Linked DNA regions of Homo sapiens: region 2 is linked to region 1. Evidence: fine-mapped expression QTL. A gene starts in region 1. The other region holds a variant in brackets. All regions are shown on one strand. Distances are between the middles of the regions. Region 1 holds the start of SREBF2 (sterol regulatory element binding transcription factor 2). Region 2 overlaps CSDC2 (cold shock domain containing C2).

Region 1 (15,887 bases):
ATGAGACCAGGAGACAAAAATGGGTGGAAAATAAATAAGCTGTGGACAACAGCAGCTCTTTCAACCCAAACGTTAGCAACCCTCATATATACTCCAGTGTCAAAACATACCTTATGTCTTTAAAAAGGTACAAAAGGGATGAAAAGCAGATCTGTGCTTCATCTCACTGAGCAGTTTTTCCAAAGCATCCCTCCCTGGAGAAATGTGAAGTCAGTTTCCACTCTTCTCCCACCTCCACCTCCTAGGGGTGTGCTGACCACAACCATCCCCAACACTCACTCCTAGCTCAGCCAGTTGGCCACTCCAACTTTCCCAATGGTGTGAACACCCAGACTGAACTTGAGGTGCTTTCCTTCCCTCATTAGACACACCTTTACAGAGTGCCTATTCAGTGCCAGGTACTGCATGCAGGATACTCTGCCAAAGATGAAACTGGGTGTCTGCAGAGAGAAGCAAGCAGAGGCCCAAATCAGTGCCATGGAAAGGCTCAGGTACTGGAAGTTCCTCTGCAGGCTCAGGTGACAAGGAGGCTGATGGCAGGGGGACTGCATGAATTCAGGTATCAGACACAGCTCTCCAGAGCCCCAACAAGTTGGGACAGTGACTGTCGGCCCAGTCACATCAAGGCACGTTGTCATGGAATTCAGAACATAAAGACAGGATCCCAAAAGCTTCCAGAGAAGAAAACAGGTCACACAAAGGATCAAGAATGGAAATGGCATCAGATTTCTCTACTAGAAGCAAGAAGATAATCAGACAATGCCTTCAAAATTCTGACATAAAACTCTGTCCAACCTAAAATTCTAAACTCAGCCAAACTACCAAAGTGGAATGAGGTTGGTAGAAAGATGTTTTTAGACAGGCAAGGCCTCGAAGAGTTACCTAAATGTACTCTTTCTCAGGAAGCCACTGGAGGATGTGCTCCACTAAAATAAGTGAGTAAAAATCAAGAACTGGGAAAGAAGAGCTTCAACATTGCCCCCAAGGGTGATGGTTAGGGGTTGTCCCAAGATAAGTGAAGGGAGAGCAGACCTAAACCATAGCCATCAGATGGGACAGGAAAGAAAGGAACTGACCACCACATTGCAAGTTTCTGTCACAAGATTTAGGGCAAATTAGTTACAGGAACATAGAAACTAAGCATGTGGGCCGGGCGCGGTGGCTCACGTCTGTAATCCCAGCACTTTGGGAGACCGAGTCGGGTGGATCACAAGGACAGGAGTTCAAGACCAGCCTGGCCAAGATGGTGAAACCCCGTCTCTACTAAAAATACAAAAAATTAGCTGGGTGTGGAGGTGGGTGCCTATAATCCCAGCTACTTGGGAGGCTGAGGCAGAGAACTGCCTGAACCCAGGAGGCAGAGGCTGCAGTGAGCTGAGACCGCGCCACTGCACTTCAGCCTGGGCGACAGAGTGAGACTCCGTCTCAAAAAAAAAAAAAAAAAAAAAGAAACTAAGCATGTGAATAAATGGGACTATTTATTATAAGCTCTTGGAAAACATAAACAACAAAAAATGTAGAAGATCTACCCAAGAGAAATGAACATATATGTCCACACAGCAACTTGTACACAAGTTTGTAGCAGCTTCATTCATAATGTAGCCAGAGTGGAAACGGCCCAAATGTCCACCAACTGAAGAGTAGATAAAACAGAATGCGGTGTGTCCATGCAATGGAACACTACACTGCAACATGATGAACCTAAGCAATATTATGCTACCTGTCTGATTCCATTTATGAGTTGTCCAGAACAGGCAAACTCATCAAGACAGAAAGTAGATCAGCTCATTGAAAAAATTATTCTACTTTCTCCAAAGAGAACTACTTGCTTCCACCTGCCCATCTCCCACTCACCCCTGCTTCCTTTCTGCCTTGGATTCCCTCATCTGACTGTTCTGGCAAGGTTTGGCCTCCTAATACCAAGTCCCACGACTCCTTGCATGGCCTTGTCATCCTTGTTGTTCTCTGTGGCATTGTCTCCACCATCTACAGACTACTCCTTGAAAAGCTAACACTTTCCTAACCTCTAATCTCCCAGTTCTCTCCTCTTGACTCAGCAGTGACTCTCTTCAATCTCCATCCCAGTTTTACCTTCTCCTAAGTATCTACATCTCATTTCCTAATGGATGACCCCCAGGCACCCCAATTTCAGCACAATTAAGATAAATTTTCATCATTTCCCCTAACCAGCTCTTTCTGCTGACTCCTAACTCCCCCAGTGCTCCAGGCTCAAAGTCTTAATGGGATCTTAGAATTCTCCCTCTGCTCTGCCTTCAGGGACAAGCCTTCAGTGAGGACATGTCCTGTCACATCCCCAACACTCACTCCTTGCTCACCCAGTTGGCCACTCCAACCTTCCCAATGGTGTGAACACTCAGACTGAACTTGAGGTGCTTTCCTTTCCTCATCAGACACACCTTTACAGAACACCTAGTCAGTGCCAGGTACTGCAGGGTACTCTGTCAAACTGGGTTTCTGCAGGGAGAAGCAAGCAGAGGCCCAAGTCAGTGCCATGGAAAGGTATTTGAATGAGGGCCACTTCCCATCCAAATTTGTCACCCTTCATCACCTCACACCTGGATGGCTACAGTTTCCTAATTGGCCTCCCTGCCTCCAATCTTCCTTGCCTATCACCACCGTTCAATTTTCTTTTCTTTCTCTTTTATTTTTTTGAGACAAGGTCTTGCTCTGTCACCTAGGCTGGAGTACAGTGGCACAATCTGGGTTCACTGCAACCTCCGCCTCCCAGGTTCAAGCGATTCTCCTGCCTCAGCTTCCCAGGTAGCTGGGGTTACAGGTGCCCACCATCATGCCCGGCTAATTTTTGCATCTTTAGTAGAAATGGGGTTTCACCATGTTGGCCAAGCTGGTCTCGAACTCCTGACCTCGGGTGATCCACCCTCCTCGGCCTACCAAAATGCTAGGATTACAGGCATGAGCCACTGAGCCCAGCCCACAATTCAATTTTCTTAAAAACCCATGATTAATATGTCACCCCCTACTTGAAAATCTTCAACAATTCCCTATCTTCCATAAAACACCTTGCATCTACAGTACAATTTAGCTCCACCTCACCTCTCAGACCTCATCTTCTACTGTTTCCTCACACACACTATATTCCAAGAAATCTCTAGTAAACTTTCATTTCCAAAGGCAGCTTGTTCTAACTCCTCCCACATACTTGTCAGGCTGCTCCTGCCACCCATCTATTTGGACCCAGCAAAAAGGTCACCTCCATGACTGTTTCTTTCCTGATCCCAGTGGAAGAGGATCCCACCTTGCTGCCCTTCCAGAAGACCTGGTGTGTAATGGCACATGAGGCCCTTTCTCAAAATAGAGATATATAACACAAAATGAAATGGTAGACTTACTCTATTATGGGAAACCTGGGGGCCTGGGACAACAGGACGTTCTGCAGTAGTACAAGACCCCAGAGATCAACTAGCACACATGCTTTATTGGGTGCCTATAGTACTTTTTTTTTAAATGAGCCAACATATAAAAATCTGGGTATTTCTTTCTTTCTTTCTTTTTTTTTTTTTTTTTGAGACAGAGTCTTGCTCTTGTTGCCCAGGCTGGAGTGCAATGGCGCGATCTCGGCTCACTGCAACCTCTGCCTCCCGGGTTCAAGCAATTCTCCTGCCTTAGCCTCCTGAGTAGCTGGGATTACAGGCATGTGCCACGACGCCCGGCTAATTTTGTATTTTTAGTAGAGACGGGGTTTCTCCATGTTGGTCAGGCTGGTCTCAAACTCCCAACCTCAGGTGATCCACCCGCCTCGGCCTCCCAAAGTGCTGGGATTATAGGTGTGAGCCACCGTGTCCAGCATTTTTTTTTTTTTTTTTTTTAGACAGAGTCTCATTCTGTTGCCTAGGCTGGAGTGCAGTGGCATGATCTCAGCTTACTGCAACCTCTGCCTCCCAGGTTCAAGTGATTCTCCTGTCTCTGCCTCCTGGGTTGCTGGGACTATAGGCGTGTACCACCATGCCCGGCTAATTTTTGTATTTTTAGTAGAGATGGGGTTTCACCATATTGGCTAGGCTGGTCTTGAACTCCTGACCTCAGGTGATCCGCCCACCTCGGCCTCCCAAAGTGCTGGGATTACAGGCATGAGCCACTGTGCCCGGCCAAAAATCTGGGTATTTCAAATAAAAATCCAGACTTCGGCATCTCTTGAAAAACAGACACTGATACCTCTCTTCCAAGAAGCCTCCCTGGACTTCCGAATCTAAGTAGGCTAGCCCAGTCACACTCTATAATATGGCCCAATTTTATTTTGCTCACAGTGCCCTGCCTAAACTGTTCATTTATTTTACTCAACTTGTATTTCCTCCATCAAGAATGTAAGCTTCGTGAGAGAGAAGACACATGATCTGTCGCGCTCAAGTTATCCTTTGTCCATCATGAATACTTAGAAGCCATTCAATGAGTAAATGAATGTGGCCTCCCTGAGCCCATATCCTTGAAGGGTACCAATGGACTGGAACACAGCAGACATTGTGGAATGAATGGATCCTTGCCTGCCTGCACCTCCTGGAGGCTCTCTAGGTTGCATCCACCCCTTATCCCCACCATACACATACAAAGGAAGTAAATGTACTCACCCTGCCTGCCTCTCCCCTTCCTCACCTGACCGGCTCCTAGAAGCATCCAGGCTGGCTATTTCCTTGATCTAATCCAACTCCAAACCATGTCCAAGACAATTAGTATCCTGCCCAGCCCAAGATCACTGGATCACTCAGGCATTCCACAAATATTTAATGGGCACTCTCACTGTGCCAGGCACTGTTCTAGGTTCAAAGAATTTAGTGGGAATGAAACGAAGGTCTCTGCCTCAAGGAGCTAACATTCAGTAATGGGAACACAGGGGTGAGAATCAAGGGATAATTTTATCTTCAGACCACTGACCTTCAGCATGCCCAACTCTTTTTGTCCTCCAAGGCCCAGGTCAAGAGCCACCTCTTTGGTGTGGTCTTCCTGCTAAGCCAGCCTTTACCAAGCTACCCTCACTGCTGACTTTTACTTGTTGTGCTGTGCAATTTTAAGCTGTTCCATACTGGCACTAGAGTTTCTCATCTCAAGCTCCATGAAGCCATAAAATTCTATGCTATCTTTCACGATTCCTTACAGCTCAGAAACCACAGCCAGCACTTGAATACTTGTTGATCAACTGAAGACATGGAACCACTTTTCCCAAACCTGGCCCCTAGGTCTCCTGTGACACAACAGCCACACCTCTTCCTTGTGCGGTATATAACTATTTTGAGAAAAAGCCTTATGCACTGTTATAAACCAGGTCTTCTGGAAGGACAGAGAAATGGAATCTTCTTCCACTGGGATCAAACCTAATGGACCTATGAAGCCACTGAACCACTGTGGTAGTTTCCAGAGGGTGGTAGTTTCCATTTTATTCAGAAATCTGTGGGGATAAAGACAGTATTAACCACTAGGTAATTTAAACTCATTACAAATTAAGACAGGGTCGGGTACAGTGGCTCATGCCAGTAATCCCAGCACTTTGGGAGGCCAAGACAGGAGGACTGCATGTGCCTGGAAGTTGAAGACTAGCCTGGGCAACACAGTGAGACTGGCTCTACCATATATATATAAATTAGCTAGGTGTGGTGGCACATGCCTTAGTCCTAACTACTCGGGAAGCTGAGCTGGGAGGATTGCTTAAGCCCAAGAGTTCAAGGCTGCAGTGAGCTATGATTGTGCCACTGCACTCCAGCCTGGGCAACAGCCAGACACTGTCTCTAAAAAAAATTAGGTGGCTCGGCCAGGCACGGTGGCTCGGCCAGGTACAGTGGCTCATGCCTGTAATCTCAGCACTTTAGGAGGCCAAGGTGGGCGGATCACCTGAGGTTGGGAGTTGGAGACCAGCCCGACCAACATGGAGAAACCCTGTCTCTACTAAAAATACAAAATTAGCCGGGCGTGGTGGCGCATGCCTGTAATCCCAGCTACTCGGGAGGCTGAGACAGGAGAATCGCCTGAACTCGGGAGGTGGAGGTTGCGGTGAGCCGAGATCGCGCCATTGCACTCCAGCCTGGGCAACAATAGCGAAACTCCATCTCAAAAAAAAAAAAAAAAAATTTAGGTGGCTCACACCTGTAATCCTAGCACTTTGGGAGGCCAAGGCAGGAGGATCATTTGAGCCTAAGAGTTTGTGCTATGATTGTGCCACTGCATTCCAGCCTGGGTGACAGAATGAGACCCTGTCTCAAAAAATAACTAAATAAATAAAAATTTAAATTTAAAAATCAGATAAACAAAATAAGACAAATAGGAATTGATCATGGAATAGGAATGCAAAATGCACATGAATTTCTTTCTGTGCCCTTGCAGGTAGGCAGCTATAGACATACAGTACTTTCTACTGGCTGTGTAATCTTCAGTAAATTAATGAACCACCCTGGGCCTCACTTTCAGGATCAGTGAGAGGGAGATGACAAGTATAACAGTTCTCTCTACCTGACAGGGTTGTTAGGAAGATTGAGAACATTAACGTGTATAACTGTTTAACACCGTCTGGCACAGAAGTTCTCAAAACATGTTAGCTGCCCTTGCTATGTTCCCAACCCCCACCTACCCCATCCCCCATTTGTTAACCCATTTCTGTATTTAGAAGCACTTAGCAAAGAGTCTGTGGTTAGAACTGGGGCTTCAATTAAGGGTCTTATCACACTGCCCACATGACCAAAATGGAAATCAAGGACAAACCAAGGGGAGAAATATTACAAAAGCAAAATGGGAAAATGGCAAACAGATCCTTTTCAATTAGCTGCTGCATTTATCTCTTCCCCCAAAAGAGAATCTTCTGCTGCTTCTGCTTCTTCATCTGCACAACGGGGATGTAGCCATCATACATGCCTGCAAGGCTGTAGTGAGATCCTGGACATGAAAGCATTCTGAAAACTGAAAAGTACAATGCACCTGTGTTTCTGCCTAAGCTCTCTAAGGTGAGTGGCCTTAGATAAGTCAACATCTCCTGGCCTCGGCTTCTTTAATTACCGTATTAAAATAGAGGTAATAAGAGTATCTCACAGGATTGTTGTGAGGAAGAAGTGAAATAATACAAAGCATTTTGGGGCCTAAACATAAGAGTGCAACTATCCAGTTAATAAGATTACTAGCCTAGTCAACTGGACTCTTTCTTGAAAGGAGGGGTATAAAAAAACCAATACTGGCCAAGGAACTGCAAGAACTAGGCTCTAACCAGCTGGGTGACCTTGAGCAAGCCGCTGACCCTCTCCAAATCGTTGTTCCCGTGGTCGCAAAATTAGTATTTTAAGAGTGGATCCCTGGGCTCCTACCAGCTCTTCCACTCCGCTGTTAAGGCGCTGGAACAAAGGCCACCCGCTCCCCAGCCCGTACCCGAGGGGCCACAACTCAAAATTTCTTCTGCTCAATTCCCCTTGCAGCGTGACAGCAGGAGCGCCCGGGTCTCCATCCCGGAGAGATGTGTCCACACTCCGCCGCCACTGCTCTCTTCATCAGCAACTTGCTTCTGCAGTCGCTGCCCAAAGTTTCGCGGAGCACCCGGCGACCTGGCCGTCGGTCAATCCTGAGAAGCCCAGGGATTCGGGGCGCGGAGACTGGGGGCTGGGCCCCGGGAATCCCAAAGACGTCCCCGCGGCCAGGAAGGGAGTGACAGGTGCGACGCGCGGTCGCGGGCGGCGGGAGAGCGGACCACGGAAACCGCGTGTGGGCGCGCGAGGGAGGCGGCGGCCACGCGCTCTCCTTAGGCCGCTCCCTGAGACGCCCCCGCGACGTCCCTAGCCCCGCGCTCTGGAACCCGCGACCCTCGCGCCGCTTTCGGCCCCGCGGCGCCCCAGATCCCACGGCCTCCCGGAGCGGCGCAGCTGGGTCGGGCTCACGCTCGCAGCGCCGGAAGGGTTGAGGACCGCCGGGGGCACCGTGCGCACGGGGTTCTTCCCGCGCGAACCGGGGCTGTCGGGGGGTGGGCGCACGCGCACCCGGGCGCGCCGCCGTAACCCCTTCCTCCCCGCGCGGCCCCCGCACTCCCACCCACCCACCACTCACCGTCGATGTCTCCCAGGGTCAGCTCGTCGCCCAGCTCCGTGAGGGTCTCCATGGTCTCCAGACCACCCAGCTCGCCGCTGTCGTCCATCGCCCGGCTCAGCGCAGAAGCCCCCCCTGCCGTCCCGCTCAGGGAGACGCGGGGGCGGTGCCGTCGCCACCGCCCATGACACCCGACAACCCCCGCCCGGCACCGCCTCACCGACGGGTGCCACCCGCCGCCATGTTTGCGTTGCGCCCGGGCGCCGCACAGAAAGGGCGGGGCGGGATTCCCCCGCCCCAGCCCGCGCCCCCTGCGGCCCCGCCTCCAGGCCGCGCGCCCCCCTGTTTGTTGTCAATGGGACCAGGCTCATCTCAGCCAATGGGCGAGCGAAGCGGTGCGTGGGGTGATGGCGCGTCATCGATCAGCAGCTCAGATTTGCATAGTGAGGTCCCTCCCCCCGCGGCCTCGGAGCGAATGCCTGGAGTAGCCGTCCGGTCATCATCTTAACCTTCTCCGCCTTGTTTAAAGGAGCCGCTGCCTTCTCCGTTGGATCTGCGCCACACGCAAGTCCGTCCACTGGCCTGGGAGTGAAGGGTTAACAGGCCACCCTCCACCTGCGACCGCTGGCCGCCTCCAGGCCTGGCTGGGAGCACATTACGTCATCTTCCCAGCTGCCTACCCCCGCCCTGCCCGCCTGAGAAAGCCAGCGGAGTCAAACCTGGACCCCAGCGCTCGGGACGGGAGTCCGGGTCATCCAAGTCCCGCTTCTCCCAGCCTCCTTACAAAGGCGGGCACGGAGGCTTGACAAGGTTGCAGATTGTCCCAGGGCGGTCAGGATTTTACGTCTTCTGCTTTGCACCCGCCGTGACCTCGCGCTTACTCCAGTGGTCCTCAATCTCTGGCACCTCGGAACCACTGAGGACCTGAAAACCACGCCAGTGCCCAGGCCCACCGACGGCCTCCTGAGAGGGGGGCCCCGGGCACGAGTTTTTTGAAAAAGTTCCACCGGGATTCTGAAGTGCAGCCCACCCACTCCTTCAAGCACCTCACTGCCCCATCTTGCAGCTGGTCGTGTTGTAAACTTCTAGGAATTTATCCAAAGGAATAAAAATTACAAGTGCTTAAAGAAGTGCTGTAACTAGGAAGAAGTGAGAATAAGGAAATGAATATGTAAATTACATCCACACGATGGAATACCATGGGATCATTAAAAATTACGCACACAAATGTATATTTATTAGCAAGAAAAGGCGTTCACAATATATTGATAAAAGGGAAAAGTTGAAGTTTCCTGCCAGTTTGTGAGAGGCAGCTGTTGCTTAGTGATCAATAATTAAGAACACACAGGCTGTGTGGAGGCAGACACATGGATCCACTAATTCACTGTGACCTTGGGTTAATTGTTCTAAGCCTCAGTTTAGTCATCTCTAAAATGGGGATAAAATAGCATCCCTCATAGCTGTGGTTAAGTGAGATTATTTGCACATTCAATTGACAATATTTATTGAACATCTCTGTGGCAGGGAAACAAATGGTTCCTGCCCTCTGAGAGCTTCCAGTCTAGCAAAAAAAAAAATCAGAAATCCCACACCCGTATTAAACATAAAAATAAATTACAGATGATGGTACAAGTGATCAAGGAAAGGTAATGGATGTGATGAAACTAACAAGGGCCCTGACTTGTGCTGTCAAGAAGCCTCTGAAGAAGTGACATTTAAGATGAAACCTAAAATTATGAGAGAACTGCAGCTGTTACAGCCAAAGGGGAAATGATGACATGGACAAAGGCCTCGAGGCAGGAGGAGCTGCTGGCAGCCAGCTCTCGGCATAAGCTTTGGCATACAGTAAGTGCCTTGCATACTGCTGTATTGCAATTGAAAAAATAAGGATCTGGCCAGGCGCGGTGGCTCACACCGGTAATTCCAGCACTTTAGGAGGCCGAGGTGTGCAGATCATTTGAGGTCAGGAGTTGGAGACCAGCCTGACCAACATGGTGAAACCCCGTCTCTACTAAAAATACAAAAATTAGCCGGGTGTGGTGGCGCATGCCTGTAATCCCAGCTAACCGGTAGGAGAACTGCCGGAACCTGGGAGATAGAGGCTGCAGTGAGCTGAGATCATGTCGCTGCACTCCAGCCTGGGAGACAGAGCAAGACTCTGTCTCAAAAAAAAGAAAGAAAAAATACAAAGAGAGTCCGGGCAAGGTGGCTCACGCCTGTAATCCCAGCACTTTGGGAGGCTGAGGTGGGCGGATTGCCTGAGGTCGGGAGTTCGAGACCAGCTTGGCCAGCTTGGTGAAACCCCGTCTCTACTAAAAATACAAAAATTAGCCAGGCGTGATGGTGCATGCCTGTAATCCCAGCTACTCAGGAAGCTGAGGCAGGAGACTTGCTTGAACCCGGGAGGCAGAAGTTACGGTGAGCAGAGATCGCGCCATTGCACTCCAGCCTGGGCAACAGGAGACTGCGTCTCAAAAAAAAAAAAAAAAAAAAAAGAAAAGAAAAGAAAAAATAAGGATCTGTGTGCTCACCTGAAGGTTAAAAACGATGGAAGACCCAACAGCTGGCTGTCAGACATAGTTACAGGAGTAGTGAGATTTGGGGTGAATTTTACTTTTGGAGTGAATTTTACTTTCTTTTTGGCATTTCAGTATTGCTTAAATTACGTTTTATAATGAACGTGTATAACTAATGAGAAATAGATAGTGTCTTATTTTTTGGGAAAGCAAGACAACATTGTTCTCGTCATTGTTCACACACAGGGAGGCTGGTATAGAATACACCAGTCTCACCCTGAAAGACACAGAAAACTAAACCCTGCTCTGGACACAGCACTGAGCAGGAAGGTGCCACCTTCAACTGTGCTGCCCAGTGGCTCTTGCAAGGCCCCTCACACTGGTGTGTGACTGGTACTCTGGGGGGATTCAGCAACAACTCCCATACAACTCACTCTGGCCCAGGGCACCCCCCACAACCCAGAACCTCAGTGACCCCCTCCAGAGGTGGCACACAGCACCTGCTCCCATAGTTCCCCACTGAGCCTGCCCAGAGGGCGTGATGCCTCGCCAAGTGGACTGAAGGGGTACAACTGAAGGCTCAGTAGAAATGGTGGAAGAAGGGTGGCTGGACCCGAACCTCAGGAAGCACTGATATTTTCCCTCTGGCCCTGGATCCCATGTAACTGAACATCTCTTCCAGGTGGTACCTTGCTCTGGCTAGCAGGAGGACAAGGGCTGGCTCTGAGAGGTAGAACAGCTTTTGACAAGTCACTCCTCAGAACCTGAGCTCTTCATCTGAAAAGAGATGGACAGCCGGGCACGGTTGCTTACGCCTGTAATCCCAGCACTTTAGGAGGCCGAGGCAGGCAGATCACGAAGTCAAGAGATCGAGACCATCCTGGCCAATATGGTGAAACCCATCTCTACTGAAAATACAAAAATTAGCTGGTCATGGTGGCAAGCACCTGTAGTCCTAGCTACTCAGGAGGCTGAGGCAGAAGAATCACTTGAACCCGGGAGGCGGGGGTTGCAGTGAGCCGAGATCGCACCACTGCACTCCAGGCAGGCAACAAAGTGAGACTTGTCTCAAAAAAAAAGAAAAAAAAGAAAGAAAGAAAGAAAAGGGATGGATTAGACTGGGTAACCACTATGTTTCGATATCTACCATGGATTGGGCATGTGCTACGGGTCACAGAAGATAATTTTGTATATGGTTTTTCATTTACTTCCTCTGACACTTTCCCCTTTTTCCCACAGCACCTGTCCTTTTCTTCCTCTTCCCCTAATCTTTCAGGATTCAGTTCAGATATTACTTCCTCTAGGAAGCCTTCCAATTGGATTAACCAAAAGCATGTACTCCACTGTTTGACACAGAGATGGGGTTAGAGAGGGAAATAACCAGTTTGGTTTTGGAAACATAAGCGATGAGAATTATCAGGTAGTAACCGGGCGAGTATTCAGCTTTTAGGTCTTAGAGAGTATGGCTGCCCAAAAAGAAAATAGAAACAGCTCCATAAAAAACTTCATGCAAACGGGGGCAGGTGAGGAAAGAAGAATCCGGAAGAGAGAGTCAGCTCAGACTTGACAGCAGAGAACTACAACAACAAGCCTGAGAGAATCACCTCAAGGAGCTGTCAACAGCATCTCTCTGAGGACAGTGATGGGGAAGGGGAGGAAGATGTGGGACTGGAATAAGGAGAAGGGCTGTGGACCAGAGAGGTTTTCCCTCCCAGTGGACATCTGGCAATGTCTGGACACATTTTTGGTTGTCGTAACTGGGGGACTGCTACAGGCACCTGGCAGGGAGAGGCCGGGATGCTGCTAAAATAGCCTACAACACACAGGACAGCCCTCTTCACACTCACACACCCAACGATTACCTAGCCCCAAACGTTAATAGTGCCGCTGCTGGAAAACGCTGTCTTAAAGGATATCAGGGAGCTCACAGACTAGCAGCTGAGTAGACAGGAGCAATGTCCAAGATCACACTGAAAACACCACTGTTGCCACCACTGGGCACCCTGGCACTGGTCACTGGACTTGGCATTAGAGCCACCCCTTCACTGCTGCCCCTGGTACCTGTGACCACTACCGCCACCAGCACGACTCCCACAGTGGTATATGCAGTTGGTAGCGCTATAGTGACCTAACAATCCCAGCTGCAAGAGGCAGCTGGACAAACATGTGCCCTAGGGCCTTTACAGCTCAGGGGGTGGGCTCTGTCTGCAGTAAGACTCAGCAAGTGGACTTCCTGGAGCAAGTGACTATAACAATCAATAGTGGCAGTAAAGGGAGGGAGAGAGGGAGCGAGTGGAGTAGTTCTATTTGTTTCTTTGAAGGTGCCCATTTGAGGGCAGAAAGGACAGGATTAACCAGGTTGGAGAGAGGATGACGGTATTAGAGGAAAGAGCCCAGGAGGAAGGAGGTGCCAGAAGGGGCAGATGAGGAGATAGTTCAAGACCAGGCCCCACTCTTTGGCTCTGCATATATAGCAGGCAGTCAGTAAATACATGGGATGAACAAGGAACCGTCAGAGAAGGGCACACATCACTGAGAAGTCACTTAAATTCCAGGTTTCATCCTTTCAACCACTGGGCATTCTGAGATGGGGGGCCCAAGGATCTGAGTGTGAAGAGCCTGGTTCTGATAACAACAGCTGGCAAGAGACAGCCCAGGCTGGTCCCAAGTTGCCCAGGTCTTGCCACCACACTGGGCTGGCTTCCCCATTGCTCTGCAGTTGCCCAGCTCTGCTTCAAATTATACAAATCCTGCTAATGACAGAGCCCGTAGAAGTTATTCAGTAGAAAGAACCTCCAGCCGAAGCTGGACCCACCACTGACTGTCCTGAGGTATGCTTTAGCCTCCCTGCCACCCCAAGAAAGCTAGGTCTGCTGCCAACCAGGCCTGGTTCTTAGAAAGTTTTTTCTCCAGTTAAGGGGAAAGCCAAGCACCTTCTCTGCTAAGTCAGCAACCACAACCACTCTCTAGCATGAAAAGGACAGCGACTGGCCTGGTCCTTCCGGCAGGGAAGAGCTTGCGGGCTGGTCCTGACACCCAGCTCCAGCTGCTGGCACCAGGACAGGTTAAACAGCTGAGCCAGTGAATCTGACCCTTTCCCGTTGATGCAGGAAAATAGGGTCTGGAGGCAGGGAACATAAGGCCAATTCACGCTTCAGCTATAACAGGGAATATCCTCCCCATAGGGTATATGCTGTAAATGAATTTGTAAATTTACTTCATCCTTTCCATTTACATAGGGTGTACCTCAAGTAACCAATGGAATCCTCTAGTGGGTATTTACTCCCAAAAATTCTGTAACGGGCCCCTTGAGTCCCTATGCTCAGGCCCTCTCCCATGCTGTGGAGTATACTTTCATTCTCAGTAAAACCCTTCATTCCTTCCTTGCTTTGTGCATTTTGCCCAATTCTTTGTTCAAGACATCAAGAACCTGGACACCCTCCACTGTTAATGCCATGGACCAGCCCTTTAGTTCACAGACTCGGGTGTCCATGTGGCTGGGGTCACACAACCTGAGAAGGGCAGGGTGGAGATGAAACTATGTCTGTTGAGTCAGTCCCACCACACTGCCCTGCCTCCACTGCCCAGTGAGGGGCCTTCTGATGGGGAAATTTCTCCAGCACTCCTCCCAGCCCCCACACCCAGCTCTCTTCCAGCTGCTTCTTGTCCCCTTACTTCCGAGTAACTGATGGGTGCAGGATGTTCTGGGCCCTTCCATGAGGCTTCTCTAAGGCTTGGCTTCCCTTTGCTGCTGCAGCCCCGTAGGGAGGCCAGCCTCAGAGAAACAGGTTAGGGCTGGGCAGGGGATACAGATACCATCAAATTCATTTTGCCAATGAAGCTGCAGCACAGGGAGGGGTGGGCCAAGGCCAGTCAGCAAATCTGAAGGGCTAACACTCAGATCTCACTTGTGCTCTGTCAGTGGTAGGGGGCTGGGTGTCGAGGGGATCTGGGATGGTTTTCTCTGCTCCTTTAAGAGGCAGATCCTGACTTGGCAAGGTCAAAGAGGCAGAGCTAGAATTCTCACTAAAGCCCTTCCCTCCTCTGCTTGGGAGGGGCATGAGTGAAGGGCAGCTGCCCTACCCAGGGCCACATGCCCTCTGCAGCTTCCCTGCCCTGTGGCCTCCCGAGACGGGAAGCTGTCTGACCCATGCAGCTTAGGGCAGCCATTGCGGAGCACGGCCTCCTGCAGGGCTGCGGCCTGTCCCCCTGCAGCCCCCCACCCACAGGTTGACTGTCTTCCAGCGCTGCCAGAGAGAACAAGCTGACTTCCCTGTGCTTGCTCAATGACTGTCCCCAGACATCTGAGGACAGGGATCATGTTGCTCCAAGGTCTTCTTGAGCTAAATGTTTCCCAGGTCCCAGGGCACTTCCAGGTCCTTTCCCAACACCAATCATTTGTCAAGGGCAGTGATGGCGTAGGACCAGGAGGCCCAAGCCAAGCCCCTTCCTTCTCTGCCCTGCCAGGGCCTGGGGCCCCTCCTGGTGGGGCAGAGGCATCCTCCAAGCTGTTTCTACATCCCTGAGGGGCCCTGGTCCCCTCACAGTGTCCCCACCAGCCTTGGTCGGTCCAAAGGGTCTGCTGGCTTTTATTGTGTCTCTGCAGAGGGGCTGGGACCTGTGCCAGGCAGCTCTGTGACACAGTGGGGCCAGCAGCAGGGTGGCACCCTGACCCGTGGCTCAGAACCTAGTTCTGCTGCTTCCCCACCAAGGGCGGAAGCCAGCTGGCCAGAGGTCTTCAGCCACCAACAGGGTCCAGGCAGGCATCCTCCTGCCTCCCCCAGCAGTCTGCACAGGGTCATATTTCCAGCATAAAATCCTCTGAAGGCCCCTTCAGCAGGAGGCCCCTGAGAGAAAATCCAGCCATCTGAGGCTCAGTCCCTTCAGCTGGGGCTCAGACCCAGCTCCAGGGGGCCGGGCAAATGTGGCCTCCCCTTCTGGAAGGGGCTAGCTGGTGCTCTCCACCACAACCACACCTCCACCTCTTCTTCCTCCCGACCTGCCTCCTTGTGGCCCCCTGAGCCCTGAGCTGCTCCAGGGCTATAACTCAGACTGGGATCTGGAGATCCTTGGGCCTTTTCGGATCTCCTTCCGCTTCTCCTCTTTCTTTCGGCGTTTCTCTTCTTCTCTCAGGGCCTTCTGGAAAGGGTCAGTGCTGGGAATGAACTGAAGGGAAGAGAAGAGCAGTCTGATTTAGTCTGTGGCAGCAAAGAGCCTGCTCTGAGCTAGGCCACCAGCGGGGTGTGGGAATAGGAAGGTTCCCTGGACACAGGCCCTGCCCCAGACACGGAGACAGGAAATGGGTTTGGGAGAACTGCTGAGTGGGTGTTGGAAGATAAGCAGGAG
Region 2 (15,887 bases), 260 kb after region 1:
TGGCTTCTTTGGAAGAAAACCAAGCTGCAGAGGGAGAAAGGCTGGAGAAGCAGGTTGTAGCCTCAGATTGAACAAATGGCCTTTGAATGTGAAACCAAGGGTGTAGGCTTCCTCTCTCTTTACTTGCCCGTGGGGTCACAGACGTGGTCTCACACTCTTTCTTCCTCCTGTCCTCTATGTGACCCTGAAGTCATTGAGAAGTTTGATTATGTGTTTGCCGAGAACGGGACGGTGCAGTATAAGCACGGACGACTGCTCTCCAAGCAGGTCAGTGTCCCCCAGGGCTTAGCCAGGGGCACCCCACTTTTCCATAGTGGAGCAGTCCAAGGGGGCTTCTGTCCTGGGCTGGGGGAGAGACACTGTGCCTGTCTCAGGGTCAGGCAGCCCAGGCCACGCTCAGAGCCCTGTGTTCCTTGGCCAGACCATCCAGAACCACCTGGGGGAGGAGCTGCTGCAGGACTTGATCAACTTCTGCCTCAGCTACATGGCCCTGCTCAGGCTGCCCAAGAAGCGGTGAGGTCCCACCAGCCTGGTCTCCAGAACCTGGGGCCTGAGGGAGGAGAAGTGTGGGTCCCTCAGAGGGAACCTGGAGATACTTGGGCCCCTGATTTTTTGCGGGGAGTGTGGATTCTTGTCCCCTTTGAAGTCCTAGGAGGCTGGGGTCCCAGGTGGGGCTAGATTTGAATTCAGGGCCGTTCTGGTTCTCTCTGGCTCCCCGCCCTCCCTCACCACCAGTGGAACCTTCATCGAGTTCCGGAATGGCATGCTGAACATCTCGCCCATCGGCCGGAGCTGCACCCTGGAGGAGAGGATCGAGTTCTCCGAACTGGACAAGGTACCACTAGCTATGCAATCTTAGGCCTGTAGGGCCTCAGTCACTCAATTTATCTGAGCCTTTATTTTCTCATCAGTAAAATAGACTGGGGGATGTGTTCTGATTTAACTGATACCCTTTCAGGCACCTACTGTGTGCCATTGTTGTAGACACACCTGCATCTTTACAATGCTGCTGGTCCCCCTTCCTAGGTGACCAGCACCAGGCAGCCACCCACTGAGCCAGGCCAACACCTGGGAACATCATTTCCACCTTCCCACCCACATCGGGTCCAACAACTCTTATTTCATCAGCCTCTCGAGTCAGTGTCAAATCTGTTCATCTGCAGAACTGAGACCCCACTTTCTAGATTACCCCTTTCCCCAGCCCCAGGCTGCCCCAACTTTCCTCTCTGTCCCTCCCTACCCCTTGCATAGCCCTGCCAGCCTGCTCTCCAGCAATGCCACTGAGAACCTTTCTTTCTTTTTCTTTTTGGAGATAGAGTCTCCAAAAAAATAGATAGAGGCTGGAGTGCAGTGGCATGATCTCAGCTCACTGCAACTCCCACCTCCCGTGTTCAAGCGATTCTCCTGCCTCAGCCTCCCAAGTAGCTGGAATTACAGGCATGCACCACTACACCCAGCTAATTTTTGTACTTTTTTAGTAGAGGCAGGGTTTCACCACGTTGGCCAGGCTGGTCTCGAACTCCTGACCTAAGGTGATCCGCCTGCCTCGGCCTCCCAAAGTTCTGGGATTACAGGCATGAGCCACCACGCACAGCCCATTAGAACCTTTCAAACATGTCAGCCGCATTCACCCCCCAGCCCCACCCCCTCATTTACAATCCTTCCTTGGCTCCTCGTTGCCAACTGGATGATGTCCTAGCCCCCTGCTATGGTGCCTCAAGCCCTGAGGGCTCTGTCTGGCTCTGGCTCTCCGCGTCTCCTTTCTATGCCCTTCAAGTTCCACTTTCTATTCCTGGAACACACCAAGGTCCTCTCACCTCTGCCTGTACTGCCCCTGCTAAACCTTGATGTGCATTTTGCTTTTCTCCCCACCGCCTCCCTCCCTCTCGGGGATGGAGCAATCCACCCATCCAGACCTTTCCATGCTGGCCCGTCCACGTCATTCTGTCATTCTCTCTGACCTGTTCGGTGGCTCTCCCTGCCCTCTGCTCCAGCTATGGCCTCTTGGCTGATTCTAGAGTGCTGTGCCTCTGTCAGAGCACACTTCTCTCAGGCCCAGCTCGTCCCTCCCCTCCTTCAAATCCCCTTTCACATCCTTTTCCCAGTGGGGCCTCCGAGAGTATCACATCCACTGCTGCACTTCCTCCTCCTTCCCCTACCTTATTTCTCCCCAAGTAGCCTTGGACAACTTTCATCATCTACTTTTAAAATCCGAATTACTGTCTGTCCCTGTCCCAGAACTGTAAGCTCCATGAGGGATTTCTGCGGCTTGTTCTCCTCTGGATCCCCTATGCTTGGCACATGGCATACTTTTTGTTGTTATTGTTTTTGAGACAGGGTCTTACTCTGTTGCCCAGTCTGGAGTGCAGTGCAGTGATCCAGTCCTAGCTCACTGCAGCCTCGATCTCTCAGGCTCAAGCGATCCTCACACCTCAGCCTCCTGAGTAGCTGGGACCACAGGTGCATTACACCATGCCAGGCTAATTTTTAAAATATTTTGTAGGGATGGGATCTCGCTGTGTCTCCCAGGCCAGTTTTGAACTCCTAGCCTCAAGTGGGCCTTCTCCCTCAGCCTTCCAAAGCACCAAGACTGTAGGTGTGAGCCACCGCACCTCGCAAAGAAATACCCTTTTTTGTTTTTTTTTTTTTGGAGACTGAGTTTCGCTCTGTCACCCAGGCTGGAGTGCTGTGGCACAATCTCGGCTCACTGCAACCTCCACCTCCCGGGTTCAAACAATTCTTCTGCCCCAGCCTCCCAAGTATCTGGGACTACAGGCACATGCTGCCACGCCCGGCTAATTTTTTTTTTTTAGACAGAGTCTTGCTCTGTCACCAGGCTGGAGTGCAGTGGCACAATCTCGGCTCACTGGAACCCCTGACTCGCTGGTTCAAGCGATTCTTCTGCCTCAGCCTTCCCAAGTAGCTAGGATTACATGCACCACAATGCCCAGCTAATTTTTTGTATTTTTAGTAGAGACGGGGTTTCACCATGTTGGCCAGGATGGTCTCGATCTTCTGACCTCGTGATCCGCCTGCCTCAGCCTGCCAAAGTGCTGGGATTACAGGCGTGGCCACTGTGCCCGGCCTAATATTTTGTATTTTAGTAGAGATGGGGTTTCACCGTGTTGCCCAGGCTGGTCTCGAACTCCTGAGCTCAGGCAATCCACCCACCTCAACCTTCCAAAGTGATTATAGGTGTGAGCCACTGTGCCCGGCAAGAAATACCTTTTGAATGAATGAAATGAGCTGTATTATCTCCATTTTATAAATGAGGAAACCAAGGCTCGATGAGAAGGGCCCTGCCCGAGGTCACATAGGGAGTTGGTTGCAGAGCAAAGATTTGATTTTGCCATTGGCCCTCTGGTGCCTCCCTGAGGGTGCCTCTCAGCTCAGTGACTCCTGACTCCCACCTGTGCCCTGAGGCTTAGGGGAGGCAGTGCCCACAGGCACAGGGACTTTTTTTTTTTTTCTTGATAGAGTCTTGCTCTGTCACCCAGGCTGGAGTGCAGTAGCATGATCTCAGCTCACTGCAACCTTCGCTGCCTAGGCTCAAGCAATTCTCCTGCCTCAGCCTCCTGAGTAGCTGGGATTACAGGCCCATGCCACCACACCTGGCTAAGTTTTTTGGTTTTGGTTTTGGTTTTGGTTTGGTTTTGGGTTTTTTTTTTTTTTTTTTTTTTGAGATGGAGTCTCACTCTGTCGCCAGGCTGGAGTGCAGTGGTGAGATCTCGGCTCGCTGCAACCTCTGCCTCCCGGGTTCAAGCGATTCTCCTGCCTCAGCCTCCCAAGTAGCTGGGACTACAAGCGCCTGCCACCACGCCCAGCTAATTTTTGTATTTTTAGTAGAGACAGGGTTTCACCATGCTGGCTAGGATGGTCTCGATCTCTTAACCTTGTGATCCGCCCTCCTTGGCCTTCCAAAGTGCTGGAATTACGGGCATGAGCCACCGCGCCCGGCCTAATTTTTGTATTTTTTAGTAGGGACAGGGTTTTGCCATGTTCAGGCTGGTCTCAAATCCCTGGCCTCAAGTGATCTGCCTACCTTGGCCTCCCAAAGTGCTGGGATTATAGATGTGAGCCGCTGCGCCCGGCCACGGGGACTTTTTTTTTGGGGTAGTTAGGATTGGTCTTAGGCAAAGAACCCTTCCCCCCCAATACACGTGCTGAGAAGTTATCCCTTCCTGTCCACCCAGGTTCCCAGTCCCAGCTCTACCCATTTGCCTTGTAACCTGGAAAAGCATCTTTACTAACGTGTGCCTCAGTTTCCTTATGTGTAAGGTGGGGGTAATAGCAGTTCCCATCCCATGGGCTGTCATGAGCACTGGATGAGGTGGCACATGGACCCCACCTGGCATGGAGTTGGGGAGCCACACCCTAACTCCCCACCCCAGAGCCTTCTCAAGTATTTTTGGCTCTTGTTTGCTCCCTTCTGGCACTGGAGGAGCATGAACCTTCCTGATCTGTGCGCCCTGCCCTGGCCCAGAGCTGGTGTAAATAAATGCTTAACCCAGCTCATCTTCCAGAACCCTGAAG[C/G]GGGGATGAGTACTTCCCTTCCTTAGATGAGGACACTGAGGCCAGAGGGTGAGTAACCAGCTCGAGGTCACAGTGCCGGTCCCTGCTGAGGCTGGCCTTGCACATGGGGCTGTCTAGTGACCAGCCTTGTTCTCCAGAGAAGGGAGGTGCAGCCAGCCTCGGCCATGTGGAAACATTTCTTCAGAGCCTGGGGCAGTCTTAGTGGTAGCCCTGGGCCTACAGAGTGGACGCTGGTGGGGACTCTGGCCTCCCTGGGGCCCACCTACCTGCTGGAAAGCCAGGCCAAGGCTGGCAGGGGGCTCACATCCCTTATCTCTGCTTTTCCATGAGAGGGAAGCAGGCAGGGGTCATTCATTACTTCTCTGTCCTTTAGTCCAGGAAATAGGCTCAGAGAGGTCAGGTGACTTGCCCATGGTCACACAGCTGAGGAGTACAGTAGCCAAGCCTGGCTACTTGCCTTCAGATCTCAGGCTAGGGGGTGTCTGGCTTTATATCTGACATCCTCCCTGGGCCACTTCTCCAAGCTCCATGCTGCTGACCACTGCCTGCCTTTCCGCCCCAGTCCTACCCGGCTCTGACTACAGGGCCATACCAGCCACCCCACTCCTGTGCTCCAGAATCCTCAGCGCCTCTTGGTCCCCCAGGATGTGGTCAGACTTCCCAGCCCGGTCTCGAGACCCTCTGTCAGCTGAATGTCCTGCTGGCTGGTTTAGATGTTCAGCTGCCCCTCAGACTGGGCATAGCTGCTCCCCTTTGTGGCCCTCTGAGATGGAGATCCTGGGGGCTGGCGGGGAGAATGTCCCCCTGCTCCACGTTTGCGGAGCTGCTGCCAGAGTTCCTGCTCAGAGGGACGGGGCCGGCCTGGGCACTACCTAGTCCCCAGCCCAGCCGCGTCTTTGCATGCTGGGTGCTCTGCCATGCCTGGCATCCTGCTGCCCTCTGTGAATGCCCACAGCCACCTCCTCACAGGTCTCCTGCTCTCAGCTCCCATGCTCATTTCTGAGTATTTGCTTTGTTGAGCTGGTTACAGATAACAGGATCGAGCCCTGCCCTGAGGTGGACACTGATGTGGGATCCAGATTGCCCCGTCTCCTCGCCCTTCCTACTCGTGTCTCTCCTCTGAGGTCTCCTTCAGAAGACCCAGCCCACAGCCCCATTGGCAGCCCCATCCCTTCTGGATTTAGGCCCTGGCTCTGCCACCAGGGCTAGGTGACCTTGACCAAGGCACAACCCCTCTCTGAGCCTTAGTTTGCGCATCTGCACAGTTGGGGGTCCTACCCACCTAGAATGCTCAGCACGCTCACGTGGACTGTGTGCCCAGCCAGGGCCTGGCACACAGCAGGTCCTCTGAGCTGCCATCCGCTCCCTCCCCTCTGCAGAAAGAGAAGATCCGGGAGAAGTTCGTGGAAGCCCTGAAAACAGAGTTTGCTGGCAAAGGGCTGAGGTTCTCTCGAGGTACGTCCACCCTGCAGAGGACCTGGGAGGCCTGGTACAGGGCCCCTCCTCAAACCATCTGCCCCTGCCAAGACCAGGCTGTGGCCCCCAGTAGCTTTAGTAGCCCCTCCCCGGCTCAGGGCAGAGAGGGTGGCTGAGCCCGATGCAGAAAGGGGTTCAGTGTTTACTGGCCCCCAGTTTTCCCCACCTCATACCTCAGAGGTAAACGCCCCATGCCCACCCAGTTTCTCAGGCCAAAAAACCAGAGCCTCTCCCTTGAATGCTCTCCCCCACCCCTTCCCAAGTCCAAACTCCTAGAAGTCACAGGGCCCCCTGTCTGGAATCCCACCGGTGCTCACACTTCCACTGCCAGCAGCTTGTCCCAGGCTCCAACTGACCCTGACACAACTGGGCTCCCCTCTGCCACCTCACCCATTCCCCAGTGGCCAGAGAGGCTGGAGCTGGAGTCATGACATGCCTCTGCCCAAAGTCCTCCCCAGGCTCTTCCTCCCTCTCCATGTGATGCCCAGGGCCTGCCCGTCCTCCCCCTACCTCTCCTGGCCTCCTCCGTTGCTGGGACGCTCGTTCTCTTCCCTGCCTCAGGGGCTGTACTTTGCGCCCCAGCCATCCCCACTCGGCTCAGGTCCCAGCTCATTGCCACCTCCTCAGAGGTCTCCCCTGATCACCCTGGCCGGATGAGCTTCCCCCACCCACTTCATGGTCTTGTTCATTCTCCAACCTGTGTCATAACTTCCTTGAGGATCCTAAGTCTGTCCCGTGTCCTATTCCTGGCCCTCAGTAGGCACTCAAGGGTTGTTGAATGAATGAATGAACAAGCAGCCCTTCTGTTAGCCTTGTCTGCCCCTCCCAGCAGGGAATAACAGTCCCCACCCCTGCCCACAGGAGGCATGATCAGCTTTGACGTCTTCCCCGAGGGCTGGGACAAGCGCTACTGCCTGGATAGCCTGGACCAGGACAGCTTCGACACCATCCACTTCTTTGGGAACGAGACTAGCCCTGTGAGTGTGGCCCACCCCAGGTTTCCCCTAACGCAGTGGACAGTGAGAAGCCAGGTCTGGTGGCTTCTCCAATGCAAATCACCTGAGGTCAAGGCCAGAACATGGGGCAACACAACAGACCTCTTAGGGGGCTCCTGGAGAACAACCATTGCTCACCAGCCCCGTTACACAGATTGGAAAGCTGGGGCCCCAAGAGGCTGGGCACTTGTTCTACATCACACAGCAAGTCAGGGCAGGTCTGACAAGGGGTGAGAAGGTGGGCTTCCTGGCAGTTCTGAAGGGGCAGGAGGAGGGGCAGGTCCGTAGCAGCCAATGTGGAGAGGGACTCCACCTAAATATCCCTCCTCTGCCCATCCTCTGTGTGCAGGGTGGGAACGACTTTGAGATCTTTGCCGACCCCCGGACTGTTGGCCACAGCGTGGTGTCTCCTCAGGACACGGTGCAGCGATGCCGGGAGATTTTCTTCCCAGAGACAGCTCATGAGGCGTGACCGGGGCCCACATCTGTGTGTCGTGACTTCTGAAGAGTTTGGCCTAGGCCTAAAGAGAGGTCCTGGTGTTGGATAGATGCCAGGGCCCCTCCTCTGGCCCAGGACGCCTGCTGCAAGCCCACCCAGATGGGGCCAGAGTCTGTGTGGACAACCGTCCCCAGCCAGTCTGCTCCTAGTGGCACTGGCTTCGTCCTCCCAGGGCCCAGAGTGTTCCCCATGCTCCACCTGGTGGCCCAGGCCACAGCTGCTGCTTGTATTTCGGTACAGAAGAGGTTTCTTTCTGCACCAGGAGGAGGCGTGCTCAAGTATCGGTACGAGATCTAGCCTGCCCTGCCTGCCTGCCCTGGGCGATGAGGTACGGTGGGGAAGGTGCCTATTTTAGAGAACTTTGTCACAGTATTAAAGTTCCCAGAACAAAGTAGGTGTCAGCTGTGTCTGAATGGATAATTGGCCCCAGTCACATGCTGTCACAGCCACTACTTTGCCGACAAGTAAACAGCACAGAGAGGGCAGGGACTTGGCCCAGGTCACAAAGGAAGTCTGATGCAGTCGAGGAGGGGGCCATTGAATCCCCAAAGAAGAGCTGGTTTGGTGTGTCCACCCCCAGCCCCTTCCTTGGGGACCCTGACACAGAGGCAGCTTCAGGCCACGGTGGGTCACAGTTGAGGGTTTATTGCCAGTGTTAGGAAGAATGGGGGGTCTGGGTGGCCAGGGGTCTTGGGAGGAATTCCAAATGAGCACTGCAGGGCCTGTGAGTGGGGAGGAGAGCTGCTGCCCCCCTGCCACCCAGGAGGCCCCAGGGCTGATGCCACCATATCCTGACTGCTAGTGGTGCCTTAAAAGGTGGCCTCCCCACAGGAGGGGAGCCTTGGGGGCCCCCAGGAGTCAGCCCTCACCAACAAGCCCTCTCTCAAGGGGGCCAGGGGCCTTTATTCCTCATGGGACAGGCTGGGCCGTGCCCATTTTAGGGGAGCTGACCACACCTCAGCAGCTCTGGGCTCCCAGATTTTATGTGGTGGGCCCTGGGGCCGGGGGTGGGATGCAGGCATCCCGGCTGATTTCTACCCTGCGGTCTTGGGGCACCTACAAGGCAAGGGATCCTCCTAGACAGTCACTGATCCCCTCATCCTGGGCATTTGAGCCCCCAGTTTTACTCACAGACTGAGTCTCATAAGGGTCCCACCCCTGGCCAGCCCTCCCTCGAACCACGGCCCCACTTCTCCCCGGTCAGGCGATGTGCTCTCTAGAAGGGAGGGTGGTAGGCAGGGGGTGCACCCAGAGGTGGAGGCAGACAGGGCCCTCCTTCCTGGCCTCCTGGGCCAGGCCACCCTCACCCCTGCCTGGGAGTGAATGGCCACGACCCCGGGTGCACACACATCTTGGCCCCAAAAGGACTCCAGGTGACAGCAACAGCCACACATCTTCAGGGATGGATGCAATAAGAGCCACACCTCGGCCACTGGTCTGTTAGGGCTTTGGGAAGAGAGTTTGACGTGGAGGCCGCAGGGCCAGTCTCCCAGGCTGGGGGCCCTCCTCGTGGGTGCCCCGGACGTGTGTCCGTCCCTCGCGGCATCCACAGCAGCCGTCAGCCGGGCATGGCCCAGAGCATCAGTGGGGCTTGTGAGTCAGGGTAAAGGAGGTCTGCAGCCAAGCTGGAGAGATGGACCCCCACCCTCTGCAAACCCCTGGGCTCGGCTCAGTACAGCCCAGGGGAAGGAGCCCAGCGCCACTGCCAGGCTGAGGAGGAGGGACTGGCCGGCGAAATGGGAGCCCCAAACCCCTTCCGCCCTCAGGCCCCTCTTCCTGCCTCTCCATGGCACTGAGAGAGCAGAGCAGGAAGGAAGGCTGGCCTCGGCAGTGAGAGGCCTGTGTGCCTCCGTGTCAGTCCTCCTCCCCTGCCAGAGGCTGAGAGGCTCCCCAAAAGCACCCATCGGCCAGGCTTCTGAGGGAAGGGTCCAGGCTGTGGCGGGGGACCTCAGCCAAGGGAGGGAGATGTAAGTAGCACAGAGAGCCTGGCTCCGGGCCAGGGACTGACACGGGACAGCTCAGGGGCGGAGGCCAGGGAGTGAGCCCAGCGCAGGCTCTCGCAGCTCAGTCACCGTGGGGACGGGTAAGCAGGAGGGCGAGCGGGTCCTGCGTGTCTGCGGCAGGGAGGGGAGGAGAGAGGCAGTGGACAGCGCGAAGCCAGGTCTGGTGGCCTTGCCCTCCACCTACCTCCTGGCCAGCTTGCACAGTAGTCACGGGTCGTGGGGTGGGTGGAGGCACACGCTCATAGCCACAAGCACAGACGGACAGACAGACGTGCACACTGAGGCCACCGAAGGACTCATCAGCCAGGGCAGTGGGGCATGGAGCCGGCTGCTGCCCGTTCACCCTGTGTGGCTCCCCAACCCCCGGCCAGCTGGCCTGTGAACCACTCAGCCTAGGAGCCCACGACCTGGCCAGACCACGTCTCGTGGGGAGTGTGGGGGGCCAGCTGAGTGAGCACCACCTCCACGGCCTGGAACTTCTGGTTCTTGGGAGGGATAGGGCACATCTTGTAGGTCACCTCGTCGCCCTCCACTGGCACGTACTCCCCCTCGATGCTGGCGGGCAGGAAGAGGGGTATTAGCCCAGCAGCAGGCCCTGTGCCCCAGACAATCCTGTGGCCTGGCCTTGGGGGCAGCCTGGCCCTAAGCCTCCCTAGGCCAGGAGGCCTGGCCAGGCCTTGCTTCTCAGAACCTCAGCTCTCGAATCTGTAAAACGGGACTCATGGCTGGGCACAGTGGCTCACGCCTGTAATCCCAGCACTTTGGGAGTCTGAGGCGGGCGGATCACCTGAGTCAGGAGTTTGACACCAACCTGGCCAACATGGCGAAACCCTGGCTCTACTAAAAGTACAAAAATTAGCCAGGCATGGTGGCTGGCACCTGTAATTCCAGCTACTTGGGAGGCTGAGGTGGGAGAATCGCTTGAACCCAGGAAGTGGAGGTTGCACTGAGCCGAGATTGTGCCATTGCACTCCAGCCTGGGCGACAGAGCGAGACTCCCTCTCAAAAAATAAATAAAATAAAATAAAATGGGACTCATAAACTGTACCTCCCTTTCTGGGTCCCTTGGGGACCGAGATGTGAAAGGGCACGGGGAGGTCCCTAAAGCTCTGAGAAGCTCAGTGACCTCCCCCGGTCCTCCTGGCATTAGAAGTGGGTGGGGCCAGGCCTAGACATGATATCCATCTCTACCTCCTGGCCCACCCACATGAAGGCCCTTTCCAGGCCAAGAGGCTCAGGAGCTGGCCTAGCCCTCTCAGACCTCCACGATGCTGTAACAGGATCCAGGGCCCAGCCGCTGGCTCCCAGGCTTCTGGGGTCTGCGTGCCCACTCCCTCCCTGGCCCCAGCCCTCCTCTCCCAACGCACCCTCAGCCCCTACTCAGAGGACAGAAAAGGCACCATGAATACAGACCTCAGCCAGTGAGAGGAGAGGCCTGGAGAGCCATTTTTGAGGCACCATTGGGGACACTAGGGCAGGGGCCAAGAACAGGGAGGTGGAGGGGACTCACTCAGACACATGTACGAAGATGTCCTCGGACCCGTTCTCGGGGGTGATGAAGCCATGGCCCTGTGAGCGTGAGAACTGCTTACAGACGCCCTTGAACACGGGGCCAGCTGAGGCCCGGGCTGTCCTGGAGATAGGGTAGTGGGATTGGAGCTGTGGCCTGAGGAACTCCTCCCCGGATCCCTACAGCCATTCTGGGCCCTTTCTGCTGAGCGTGCCTCAGGGCTGTGAGAAACTTGACCCAGGCCAGAAACCACACAGTCATCCCCATTCAACGATAATGAGGCCAGGCACGGTGGCTCACACCTGTAATCCCAGCACTTTGGGAGGCTGAGGCGGGAGGATCACTTGGGCCTAGGAGTTTGAGACCAGCCTGGACAACATAGGGAGACTCCCATCTCTACAAAAAAAATTTTTTTTTTTTTTTGAGACAGGGTCTTTCTCTGTCACCCAGGCTGGAGTGCAGGGGTGCAATCTCAGCTCACTGCAACCTACACCTCCCAGGTTCAAGCAATTCTCATGCCTCAGCCTCCTGAGTAGCTGGGATTACAGGCACCCACCACCACACCCAGCTAAGTTTTGGCATTTTTAGTAGAGACAGGGTTTTGCAGTGTTTGGCCATGTTGGCCATACTGGCTTGATCTCCTGTCCTTAACTGATCCACCTGTCTCGACCTCCCAAAGTGCTGGGATTACAGGCATGAGCCACCATGTCTGGCCCAAACATTTTTTTAAAAAAATGAGCTGGGGGTGGTGGCACGCACCAGTCGTCCCAGCTACTCAGGAGGCTGAGGTGGGAGGATTGCTGAAGGCCAGGAAGTTGAGGCTGCAGTGAGCCATGACTGCACCACTGCACTCCAGCCTGGGCAACAGAGCGAGACCCTGTCCTTCCCAAAAGATCCTTTGGCCTCCCCCATATGGACCCGTATTACTCCCCTATGCCACCTCATCGGTGACCTACCCCAAAGGCCCAGGCCTAGTCTTTGTCCCGCCTACCTACCCCTCTCCAAAGGTTAACTCCGTGTCTTGGGTTTTGCCCATGCTGTACCATCTGCCCAGAATCGCCAGCTCCCTTCTTCACCTGATACATCTTCCATACCCAACCAGGACATCATCTCCTCTGGTACCCCATGCTGGGTCCTCACCCCTAACCCTGCTGGGTGGTAATGGATGGTGAACAAGTTCCCTCTGGATTGTAAGCAGCTTATGGATCCTGACTGGTCAGGAGCTCAGTAAATCTTTGTGGAATAGATGGATAGATGAATGGATGGGTGGATGGATGGACGGACAGACGGATGGATGGACGGATGGATGGGTGGGTGGATGGATGGATGGATGGATGGACAGGTGGATGGATGGATGGATGGATGGATGGATGGATGGATGGATGGATGGGTGGGTGGGTGGGTGGGTGGGTGGGTGGGTGGGTGGGTGGGTGGATGGATGGATGGATGGATGGATGGATGGGTGGATGGGTGGATGGATGAATGGATGTATGGGACAAACATCCATCCAGTTACTGGAAGGTCCACACACAGTTCCCCTGTCCCAGGTGAGGACAACAGGAGTTGGAAGAGGATGGGGATGGTCAGCCCCTGTCCTGACAAGGGTCAGGGGCCTGGGCAAGGGGCAGGTACTCACGCTGAATAGGTCCTGGTCCGCTTGGTGGGCAGAGGGCTGGGTAGGTCCCGAGGTGGGACACCACCCCGCTCCCAGACCCTGCTGCCCTCCCTGTGGAAGGGGAAGGTGGGCCAGACTGGGGACTTGGGGGAGTGGAGCGGGGGCACAACTGGGGGTGACGTCGACTCTGAAGTCATGGTGGGGCCAGCAGGAGAGCCTGGTGGGCTCTGGGGCCCAGGGGCCGGTGAGGGGTTTGGTCGTCCTTGCGGGCAGGGCCCGGCCTGGCCCTGCTCTGCGGCCTCACCAGCCACGGGCTCCGTCTGGAAGAGGAAGAAAGAGGCACAGGTGAGCCTAGTCCAGGGGAGCAGCTCCTGAACCCTGGCCACAGTGAGGAGGGCTGGTCCCACCTGCTATCCTCACGGCGTTACTTCAAGTCACAAACGACCCCATCGTGGTTCAGAGTCCTCACCAGAAAAACAAAACTAGGGGTCATATGACCCCTAAGTCCTTCCAGTTTGCAGTTCAATTCTCTTAACTCCAGGGGCCTGGGAGGTGGCTGGGTAGGGTGGCCAGTGATGGTCTAGAATATGGTTCGGCATAAGGGTCAGTTGTTTCAGAGTCACACATCTGGGTTCAAACCTTAGCTTTGTCACCTACAACTTGGTGACTTCAAGCAAGCCAAGCCACACATCAGCTCCAACATGGCAGGTGGGAGTATGGGCTCCACACCCAGGCCTGGGTTTGAATCCTGCATCCTCCACCTTCTGGCTACATAGCCTTGGCTCTGGTCAAATTTTTTTTTTTGTTTTAGACAGAGTCTCACTCTTGTTGCCCAGGCTGGAGTGCATTGGCACGATCTCGGCTCACTGCAGCCTCTGCCTCCTGGGTATAAGCGATTCTCCTGCCTCAGCCTCCTGAGTAGCTGGGATTACAGGCGCCTGCCACCACACCTGGCTGATTTTTTGTATTTTTAGTAGAGATGGGGTCTCACCATGTTGGCCAGGCAGGTCTCGAACTCCTGACCTCAGGTGATCTGCCCACCTTGGTCTCCCAAAGTGCTGGGATTACAGGCATGAGCCAACTCGTCCAGCGCATTGGTCAACACTCTTAACTTCTGACTCTTATTTTCTGTTCTGTAAAATGGGGCTAGCATTGATCCTTTGTTTTTTTTTTTTTTTTTGAGACATGGTCTCATCCAGTCTGGGGAACACTGACATGGTCATGACTCACTGCAGCCTCCATCTCCTGGGCTGAAGCGATCCTCCCACCTCAGCCTCCCAAGTAGCTGGAATTTACAAGCATGCACCCTCACACCTAGCTAATTTTTTTTTTTTTTTTTTTGAGACAGAGTCTCACTCTGTCACCCAGGCTGGAGTACAGTGGTGTGATCTCGGCTCACTGTCACTTCTGCCTCCCAGGTTCAAGTGATTCTCCTGCCTCAACCTCCCAAGTAGCTGGGATTACAGGTGCCTGCCAACACGCCTGGCTAATTTGTGTATTTTTAGTAGAGACGGGGTTTCACCATGTTGGCCAGGCTGATCTCGAACTCCTGACCTCAGTTGATCTACCTCCCTCGGCCTCCCAAAATGCTGGGGTTACAGGCCTGTGGCCTCCAATTTATACCCCTCCCACCCCAGAGCTTGGAGTTCCCAGGGAAGGAAAATCACCCACAAGGTTCCTGTAAGGTTCCTTGGAGTCCAGAGCTCAGAAAGCCTGAACACCCTGCATGGCAGGCCTGGATGAGTCCAGGAGTCCACTGGAGCAGGTCTTCTGGCCTCTGCTCAAGATTATACAGCAAGTGGAATTTTTCTGAACCAAGATGCTGAGCTGGCTCTGCCATGCCTAGGGGTGGAGGTGGAGTAGTATCCTCCCTCCTCCCAAAACCCTCCCCCTCCAGTCAGGAAGGCACTGGAGCCCCGGGCTTGGCTTGCCTCACAGACCCTCAACCCTGAAAAGGCTGAAGTGGGGCTTTTCTGTCTAAGCTCATGCCAGGTTGGCAGGGCAAACCAGGTTTGGCCTTTTCACCCATTATCCTCATTTTAGAGAGAAGAATACGGAAGCTTCAAGAAGCAACCACACAAACAGCCGGGTGTGGTGGCGCACACCTGTAATCCCAGCACTTTGGGAGGCCAAGGTGGGCAGATCACTTGAGGTCAGGAGTTCGAGACCAGCCTGGCCAACATGGTGAAACCCCGTCTCTCCTAAAAATACAAAAATTAATCGGGTGTGATGGCATCCACCTGTAGTCCCAGCTACTCAGAAGGCTGAGGCATGAGAATTGCTTCAACCCGGGAGGCAGAGGTTGCAGCAAGCCAAGACCACACCATTGCACTCCAGGGTGGGTGACTGACCCAGACTCTGTCAAAAAAAAAAAAAAAAAAAAAAGCAACCACACAAACACTTGGACATAAATGTTCATGAATGGTCACACCAGTGCTCATTCACAACAGCCAACAAGTGAAAACAGCCCGAGCCCATCAGCAGATGAATGGATAATAAATTATGGTCTAGACACATGGTAGACTAGCACTTGGCCATAAGAAAAAGAAAAGAAGAAATACTGATTCACGCTACACCCTAGATGAACCCTGCACACATTATGCGAGAATGTTTGCAAGGTCACAGAGAAGAAGCCAGTCCCAAAAACACAGAGGGCATGATTCCATCTCTGAGGCAAATCCTCATAGACAGGGAGTCCACTGGTGGTCACCAGGGCTGGGAAGGAGGGAGAGGGGAGGGCTGCCAATGGGTAGAACGTTTCTTTTTGGGGAATGGAAATGTTCTATAATTGGCTGTGGTGATGGCTGCACAACTCTGTGAATGTACTAAAAACAACTGAACTGAACGCCTTAAGCAGGTGAATTTTATGGTATATGAACGATATCTCAGTAAAGCTGTTACCAAAAAAAAGAAGACGGGGCAGCAAAGTTACCCAAGATGACACAGCTGGGAAGCACCAGACGCCCTGCAGTGCACTCCTTGAGTGCCACCTGCCCCACCTGGGTGAGGGTTGGCAGGCGATGGGGACAGAGGCCCTGCCTCCCTCTCTCTAGGGAGCAGGGCGGTCCTGGCCTCCCAACTGCAGTTTTCCCAGGCCTGGTATTGTGCTTGGCAGTGACAGCCAGTGCTGGGAGGCCATGGAGGGGCAGGGAGGGAAGAGGAGGATGGAGAGGGGGAGATGCAGCTCATGGTGGTTACCAGGGAGACGCGGCTGAGCTGGGGCCTGCTCTGGCCAGCCAGACCTCCCACCCAAGTG

Evidence for each region.
Region 2: its variant is fine-mapped to the expression of SREBF2 in whole blood (TOPMed, PIP above 0.99).

What each region holds. Positions count from the first base shown.
Region 1 is chr22:41,825,518-41,841,404 of GRCh38, reverse strand. It overlaps SREBF2 (sterol regulatory element binding transcription factor 2), which reads right to left and starts at 8,300. Exons shown (of 19, transcript NM_004599.4): 1 at 8,047-8,300. The coding sequence starts at 8,134. CCDC134 (coiled-coil domain containing 134) reads right to left here. Exons shown (of 7, transcript NM_024821.5): 7 at 9,241-15,707. The coding sequence ends at 15,582. It overlaps SREBF2-AS1 (SREBF2 antisense RNA 1), which reads left to right and starts at 6,740. Exons shown (of 2, transcript NR_157279.2): 1 at 6,740-6,962; 2 at 7,425-13,924. RefSeq lists enhancers at 5,383-5,882, 5,883-6,384, 8,175-8,831, 8,437-8,946, 9,773-10,312 and 2 more and silencers at 7,607-7,996, 8,057-8,396.
Region 2 is chr22:41,568,907-41,584,793 of GRCh38, reverse strand. CSDC2 (cold shock domain containing C2) reads right to left here. Exons shown (of 4, transcript NM_014460.4): 2 at 12,653-12,951; 3 at 11,017-11,139; 4 at 8,128-10,061. The coding sequence starts at 12,828. The coding sequence ends at 9,899. PMM1 (phosphomannomutase 1) reads left to right here. Exons shown (of 8, transcript NM_002676.3): 3 at 191-267; 4 at 422-513; 5 at 736-835; 6 at 5,913-5,988; 7 at 6,871-6,986; 8 at 7,354-7,894. The coding sequence ends at 7,476. Among named protein-coding and RNA genes, the nearest start is that of PMM1, 13 kb to the left of the region's middle. The variant C/G (reference allele first, on the strand shown) is at 4,534.